Linked DNA regions of Homo sapiens. The protein of the gene in region 1 interacts with the protein of each later gene in a pairwise test. Each region holds a gene or a part of one and is shown on either strand. Other genes may lie near its edges.

Region 1 (4,543 bases):
GGGCCCCAGGCAGCCCCAGCAGGCCAATCACCACCTCCACCACGCTGGACACCATGATTGCACCCTGGACCTGGAAGGGCAAACATCAGCCGTAAGTCACCATGTAAAGGTCATGACCTGGCTGCTGCTAGCAGGAACAAAGCTCCTGGACCACCTCCTCAAATCCCCAAACTCAGCGGCCACCCTCACTCCCATATAGCCCCTCCTCAGGACCCGGCCTCTTCTATGCTTACATGCAAACCCACCTCCCGTATCCGTGGGTGCCAAATATGAGAGGTGTTCAGGGGCAGACTCCAGTTACCGTAGATCTCCTCTGGGGGTAGAGTCAGGGATACACACACGGACCAGGTACAGAGACAGAGAGGGAGAGAAGATGCTGCCATGGCTGCACCCTGGTGTTGACCCGGGACAGTTGCTCAGACCTCCAGGTCTCTGGGCCTCCCCTTTTCCCCAGTGCAGACCCCAGAAGTGTACCCACCTTCCGGGGGGCATTTCCATCTCTCCAGAGCCAGTATGGCTTTGGCTGGAACCAGAAATGCAAAGGCACTGGCCTGGAACAGCGGCAGCCTGGAGGAGAGGCACAAAGCAACAGGGGTGGGGAGGGGCGGGTGGGGAGGAGGGATAAAGATGCGGGGAGAGATCAGGAAGGGAGAGCACAGAGAGAGTGACAGAGACACAAGGGACAAGGGCAGATGGAAATCGTTGAGGCCCCAGGGAAGACCATCTCTAACATTTTGGCTGCCCAAGGAAGAAAACAAATGGAGCCCCCAGCTCAAAACCTGCCCCCTTCCCACCACCAGCTCCTGCACTGTGAGGAGGGGGCACCTGCCCGGAAGTGGACACCTCAGTTCCCGCATCCAGGTTTCTCTCACAATCTTCCCCTGTCCCCCGCTGCTCAAACAGCTCAAATGCCACCCAGGCCTAGGGCTGTGCACTCGGGAGCGTGGGGCCCTGGGAGGGTGGGCTGTCGAAGAGGCTGGCACCAACCCTGGGAGCTAGCTCAGGGCTGCCATCTGGGCAATATTCAGAATGGGGTTTAAGAGGGGAGAGCCGGCTAGGCTTGGTGGCTCACGCCTGTAATCCCAGCACTTTGGGAGGCCAAGGTGGGCAGATACAAATACAAAATTAGCCGGGCATGGTGGCGCATGCCTGTAATCCCAGCTACTCAGGAGGCTAAGGTGGGAGAATCGCTTGAACGCGGGAGAATCGCTTGAACCCGGGAGGTGGTGGTTGTGGTGAGCCGAGATCACGCCACCGCAATCCAGCCTAGGCAACAAGAGCAAAACTCCGTCTCCAAAAAAAAAAAAAAAAAAAAAAAAAGAGGGGAGAGCCAGCGAGGGTACAATCCCTTAAACTTGCAGATGCCTGGTCTTTGAAGTGTGCCTAGATCAAGATTCCCAGGGTTGGGGCCACGCTGCCCAGCTCTAAGGCTGGCCTGGGATAGGAGAAGCAGGTGGAGGCAGAAAGCGGCTTTTTTGTCTCACCAGTGTCCTCTGGGAGCCCACCTGCTCCTGCTGTGTGGATCACAGTGGAGGGGTGGCGGGGGACGGGTTGGGGGGCTGGGCGGCTCACCGGATGCCCACGGTGGTCTGGATGAGAGTGGTGATGCCCACGCACGTGAAGATGGTGCCGATGAGCTGACTAACCATGTGCTGGTCGTGGCCCACACACAGCGCCTCAGCCAGCAGGAAGGGCACGGCGATGGTACCACTGAAGCATGTCAGGTAGTGCTGGGCAGAGGGAGACAGCAGAGTGCATGAGGCAGGACCCCAGAGCTCCAGGGAGAGGGGACAACCTAGTGTCCTCATGCCTGCCTCAGCGGGCCTGGAACCGGCTGCCTGCCCAGGACTGGCAGTCCCCACAAGGGATTCCCAGAGAGCTACTGCTGACCACTCTGGGGGTCACTAATTTCCACTCAAGATATTCCTGCGGCTTCCGTGGAGTCGGCTCTGCTCCCTGTCACCAACACCCCACCTGGCAAGCGTCACACTCCCCCAGGGAGTTCATCTTCTTTCAGGATTCAGCCTCTTCCCGACTCCTGCTTGCTGACAGCCACTGTGCTGACCTCAGGTTTTTCTTCCTGTTACCCAAGATACTCCCTGCTGGCCAGGGAGGGGCTGGAGTCCCCGGGGAGTGTGCAGAGTGAGGGCGGGGAGGCCCTGGGGGACCCACCTGGAAGCCCAGCAGGATGCACAGGTACCAAGGTGGCACGTCCTCGATCTTGTACAACATGTCAAACTTAGGCTCTGTGGGTAGCGGGGTCGAGGGGTCCCTGGTGGTTTCATGCTGGAGGCAGCAGAGATAAGTAGCTTAGGGTGAAGTGATGGGGACAGGCAAAATCCATTCTGCCCCAGAATCAATCAGGCAGCCCAAGTGGCTTGTCAGCAACTGAGAGCGGGGTTCCCGCCCTCCCCAACAGTCCATCCACCCGGGTGCCACTTGGCCTGGCCACAGTTTTCTCCCACTTTGCATTGCTTCCCGCAGGGATGAGTCTACTGTGCCAGCTTCTAGAGCCCTCAGGACCTGCCATTTTAGCCAGGGAAGTGGACCCTTAAGTCAGAAGTCTTGGAGACCACAGGAGAGGGGGCCAAGAGGGCTCAAGACTGTGGACAAGTCCAATCCGGTCCCACCTCTGCCCCCTGGAGATCCTTGGGGTGTCACTGGCCGGGAGATTAGGCCTCTCCTGAACCCCAACCTGGAGTCAGCCAGTCCCAAAGCTGCAGGCTCCTTCACCCCCACCTCCACCCATCCCCCAGTTGCCACATTCAATTTGGGACAGTCACTCTTATCAAGTTCATCAGAACGTTTATCTCTGGCCTCCAGGAAGAAGGCCTGCACAGGCCCTCCAGCCCCCCACCCCCCCTGCCCCCCCTAGCCCCCACCCCCAGCCCCCAGCACCTGTGTCCGGCCCTCGAGGTCCTCCTGGGCCCTCATCTTTGGGGCACAGGTTTGAGCAGTTCCTGAGGAGAAGAGGGGATGACTTGACAAAGGCCAAGGAGGAGGACTTTACTCCACATATCAGGCATTGTTTGAAGTAAATCTGTAACCAGATGCCCAGCTCTGGATTGCGAAAGGGGGGCCCGGGCAGAGGTAATGTATTAACTCTCACTAGGACAGTAAAAGCCACCCAAGCCTCTGCCACATGTGCCCTTCCCTGCCCACATCTGCGCCTGGGCGCTGGACCTGTTCTTGTTTCCCAAGAGAGGGCCAGAGTCGAGGGGGTGAGGACCAGAAGTTTACCAAGCCCCAGGTGAGCGGAGAAAGAGGGAGTGGAAACAGGCACTTATTATGTAACCCCCTGTATGAGGCCCTTCCCCACTGATTAATAACTAGTTCATCATTATCATCATCATCATAGTCATTCTCGTTATTGAGGAATGGCCTTGGCCTTGTGCCAAGAAACATGGATCTGCACTGTCCCAAGTAACCCCTGTGCTGGGCGGTATTAACCCCTTTAACAGCGAAGGAAACAGATTCAGTAGATGTGATTTGACCCAAGCCATGCAGATAGCAAGTTTGCAGAAACCAATCCTAAAATTCAGGTTGGTCTGAGCTGCCTTGCCCTCACCACCCTGCACCCCTCAGGGTCCCTGAGGCAGGCAGCAGATGGGCCTCTGCAGGCAGAGCTGCCTAGGCTGGCCCAGCCGGGTCTGCACTCTGTGTCAGGGCACAGATCCCTTTCCCCTCCCAGCCACATAATTTCTGGGACCCAGTGCAAAGTAAGAATGTGAGGCCTTTATTCCAAAAGTATAAAGAATTTAAAGATAGCAGGAGCATTAGATGGAGCGTGGGGCCTTTCTATGCACCAAGCCCTGTGTGACTGCCCATCACCTAGCCCAGGAAGGCAGTCCTATGCCCAGCCTGTCTCCCCTCCTGGCAGGCCCAGCCCAGCCTGGCCCTAGGGCCTGAGATGGCAGAGGGGGACATGGGGAGGGGCCCTAAGAACTCAGGCTCCTCAGCTGGTGAGGGCTGGGCCTGAGGTCCCCATTCTGTTCCCCTCTGGGCTGCCCCAGCCCCAGCACTCTAGAGCCCACCTACTTCTGGGTCGCTGTGCCCATGGCCAGGCCCTGCCTGAAGGGCCAAGGGGCAGCACCGCTCTCCAGCTGGGCAGCAGCTTCATGCCACAGCACTGAGTCCGCCCGCCTGCCGGTGTCCACACTGTTCCTCTGTCCGCCTGTCCTCTCCTCTCCCTCTTGGCTACTGCTCCCAATTTCCAAAGTTGCTGGACCAGTTTGAAGCCTCTGCAACTCCCCAGCACTTTTCTCTCCAACTTCTCCTCCCAGAACTCCCCAGGGTGCTGTGGAGACCAAGCCCGACCCCCTGCAGATACGGCTCCATGGACACTCAATTCAACCCAAACCACACAACACGCATAGAGAACAAGGTGGAGAACACGGTCCCAGATCCACAGTAGCATGAAGGGGCCCACACACCCAGAGCTGATGCAGCCTCTCTAATCACCCCACAGAAACACAGGTCCACGTCATGGGTGCCCGGCTCCACACCCTGTCCTGAAAGCTTAGTGGGTTTCTTGGGCCCTGAC
Region 2 (3,807 bases), on another chromosome or scaffold:
GTAACATGGACATTAAATGTTTAGAGGCATCTATACATGAAACACGACTGATAGATAAATTTTAACAACTCTTGCTTTAAAAAGAATCTGTGATTTGGGAGGCCAAGACAGGTGAATCATTTGAGGTCATGAGTTCAGGACTACCCTGGCCAATATGGGGAAACCCTGTCTCTACTAAAAATACAAAAATTAGCCAGATGTGATGTTGTGCACCTGTGGTCCCAGCAACTCAGGAGGCTGAGGCAGGAGAATCACTTGAATCTGGGAGGCAGAGGTTGCACCAAGCCAAGATGGTGCCACTGCACTCCAGCCTGGGTGACAGAGCAAGACTCCATTGCAAAAAAAAAAAAAAAAAAAAAAAAATCCACGATGCTACAAAGAAACATTGGATCAGCCATTGCATTGACAGGGTGGAGAACCAGGGTCCAGCCTTGCTTTATGGAAATATATCAGCAAAGTAAAGAAGAAAAGTTTCCGTCCTGATTTCAGGGTGACTGTGCAGCTAAGCAAGCTGACTTAAAGGAGATCCAGATGAAAGCTGAGAGCAGTGAAGCCTGGGGAACAATATTTCCAAATACAAAGGCAAGGCTGCCAGCTTCCTTAAACAGGCATAGAAACTCCATGGACATTGTTCAGGGACAGATGACTTAATCACAGATGACAAGAGATACTGAATCGAAGATAGGAGGCCTGACAGATACTGCCTGTGCACCTCCTGCACTCAGGTGACTATGAGATTGTCACACTTGCCTGGGGTTGAGTAACTTGATACTGGGGACTGGCAGACAAAGTCATGACATTAGCTGAGAAGGACAAAAAAACTCCCTGATATCTGTTTAGAAACCCATCACAGTTTTTTATTCAAATGAATTTGTGTTTATAGAGCCTGTCTTCAGAGTTTATCTTTCTCAGCCTAGAGAGAGGTATGAGACACAAGGAAAACAGAGGCTACCTGGAATAATGTGTACAGCATCCTCCCATTCAACATGAGAGGATGAGCCAATGAGAGTTGAGTCGACTTTGTCTTCCTCAAATGTGATTTTGGTTTTCCTATGTGGCTGGTTGGAGTCATAAGGGCCATGGCTATTTGAATAAGTGATGGCACATTCCTCCAGTGAGTCCTCAGGGACTTCCTTTTCTTCAGCCTTCTGCATCTCCCTGATGAGCCAGGTGGGACAGAGATGACAGAAGATTAAACACAGAGGGATTGGACCCCAGGGAGTCCTAGCTGGTTTTGACAGGCGGCATTAAGAGAGTGGTCCCAGAAAGCAAAATGGAGGTTCCCATTAAGAGGGAACATGCAATCCTGTTCTCTCTGCAACAGAGCATGGCTGCCATGGGAACCAGAGAGGAAGAGAGCAGCTGCTGTTCATTGCACTGGACAGATAGGAGCTGAGGAGGATGAAGACTCAGCTATCCCTGTAAGGTGCAGACATGACACTCAGCACACATAGAGAAACATGACAGCTACCGCACCCTGTGTCTAAGCTGGATTATATTTCACATACTGTGGCCAAGCGAATGCGGGTTTTTGGCCCATCATAGATGCCAGAGAGGGTGTGCCTCCTAGATATTCCTCATATGTTACCATCCATTAATTGTTCCTGAGTATTCAGTGTTACCTGGGGGCAGACGATTTCTGCACTTTCTCAGCCACCTCAACTTGAACATCTTCATCGTCATCGTTGTCATTTTCTGTAAATACAGAAGTGTTCGTTCAGATATTTCCCACTTCACAGTCTGCAAGCACAGTCAGCCCAATGTGCAACAGAGACATGAACATCTAGGCATGGGTCACCGTTCAACTGAAAACTCTCATGTTTTATCTTTAACAGAATGCCCTGCCATGGTTTCCTGATCCATCAGGCAATGCATTTCTGATCTGGAGGGCCACCATCAAGATGTGGCCAAATATTGAAAAGACCTTTTGCTTCCCATATCACTGGAGGCTTGTGCAGCCTCTCTCTGGACGTTGGCAGCTGTCTCCCCCATCCTGCCAGATCTGATTCCCAGGCACAGGCTTGGTGTCCTGTCACGGTTTGCATTTCAAACCTCATTCTTTCTCTTAGGAGAGGACAAACTTGTCCCACAGTCCTCTATGCGTCATGAGACTGCACAGGCCCTCCATGTGGCTTCTGCTGTGTTATTCAGGGACATTCTATCCATGGGGAGTGCTCCAGTCTGAAGCACTTCCTACCACCAAATGCCCCCACATCAAGTGCCTTCTCCAACACCACATGGAGAGGGGCTTCATCTCATTTTGAAAAGCATTCGTAAGTGTTCCCATATTTGGATGCTTCAGACCCTTGCAAGAGACAATTTGTCTGCCTTTGCAGATGGAGAGAGAGAAACTCTGAAAAGATAAATCACTCACTGACACTTACTAAGAACACTGCCAAAAATACAGCCTGGGAACCTTCATTCTTAGCCCAGAGCTCTTTTCACTCCAACAAGCGCCCTTCCATCACAGCCTCCTTCCTGTCCTTTAAAACTAGATAGATGCTGCCTCTTGCTCCAAAGACCACCTTCCATCAAGGAAGGAGGGACACTTGCAATACTGTGACCTCCAAACCCATGGGTTTCCCATCTCTGTTCTTACCCAGGAAGTCCTGATCATGTCATGGCCACATAGGTGTAGTAGAAAAAAACCCCACTGATATAACTGTCATTGTGAAAGTATGGAGGTCTGGAGCCTCTCATAAGCCTGGGGTTTTGGGTCATCAGGGCCTATGGCCACCTTACCTGGGCTGAGCTTTTGGACAAGGTGCTGTGCCAGTCTACACCCCTCAGCCAGCTGTTCTTGGAGGTCCTGCCCCTGGGACTTGTCCGGCTCATCCGGAGTGAGGAGGGCCTGGAGATGCTCATTCAATGAGCGGGAGGCATCTCTCCCTTCCCGTAACTTCTCCCTTAACTGGGTCAGCTCTCGTTCCTGAGAGTGAAACAGGACTTTATATTGCCTAAGGTGAGACGGTAGAGAAAATTTAAGAGTAGAAAGGGTTGAGTGATCCGTTCAAATATTGCAACAGAGACTTCTGAGACAATGTCCTCAAGGAGACCTCCAAGCAGAAGGTCAGCACATGTTGAAAGGAATGACTGTGGCCAAGAGGAAGAATAGAAAATGGTCTACAGGCTTTCCCTCTATCAGAGAGGGCTCCTGCAAGATCCTCGATGATGTTCCATTCATCTTTCTCTTCTGTAAACAAAAGTAGGTGTCTTCCTAATTCCGTTTCAAAAAGACATCCTTTCAGTTCCTCACTCTGGCCATGGACATTTCCATGTGAAAATACACATAGTGCATCTTGCGGCCACTAAATACAAAGCCATGTACAGAAATGAGGCCAGGTGCAGATGGGGCGAATTGAAAAGATGAAAGAAGAAAAGAAGGACAGGGTCAAGAAGGCAACATTGATTGAGTGAAAGAATGAGAAGACGCAGTCAGTCAGGAGGTGATTCTCACTAAGGGTAAGTGGGGTGGTGATAGCACACCATTTTGATTATACTGAATGCTGCTGGGTGGTTCCCACTCCTTTGGTGAATTTTGTGTTATGTAAATTTCACCTCAACAATTACTTGTTTGAAAAAGAGAAAACAAGGCTCTAAGAAACAACTGCAACACAGAACTTATTATTATCCTTGTTCACTGATAAATATTTGTGTGTCATGAGCCTGTCATGGCAATTTCTGCCCTTCCCCTGGCCCAGCTTCGTTCTTATTTCTCCCCGCCGAGCTGCTGTACTTCAGAGATCTACACACCTACCCGCCTGCCCTCCCCCCACGGGGTCCCCTCACCTGAGCTCCTCAGCTTGC

Evidence for each region.
Region 2: the proteins of SLC23A1 (region 1) and NBPF19 interact in a two-hybrid assay, tested with the Homo sapiens proteins (one large-scale study listed by BioGRID).

Annotation. Positions count from the first base shown.
Region 1 is NC_000005.10:139,380,320-139,384,862, forward strand, and holds the start of SLC23A1 (solute carrier family 23 member 1), read right to left. Parts: upstream 2,979-4,543; 5' UTR 2,961-2,978; coding exon of another isoform or gene 2,935-2,960; coding exon 2,899-2,934; intron 2,287-2,898; coding exon 2,173-2,286; intron 1,731-2,172; coding exon 1,573-1,730; intron 568-1,572; coding exon 479-567; intron 314-478; coding exon 246-313; coding exon of another isoform or gene 234-245; intron 71-233; coding exon 1-70.
Region 2 is NC_000001.11:149,478,030-149,481,836, reverse strand, and holds part of NBPF19 (NBPF family member NBPF19), read right to left. Parts: coding exon 3,790-3,807; intron 2,958-3,789; coding exon 2,743-2,957; intron 1,696-2,742; coding exon 1,623-1,695; intron 1,159-1,622; coding exon 953-1,158; intron 1-952.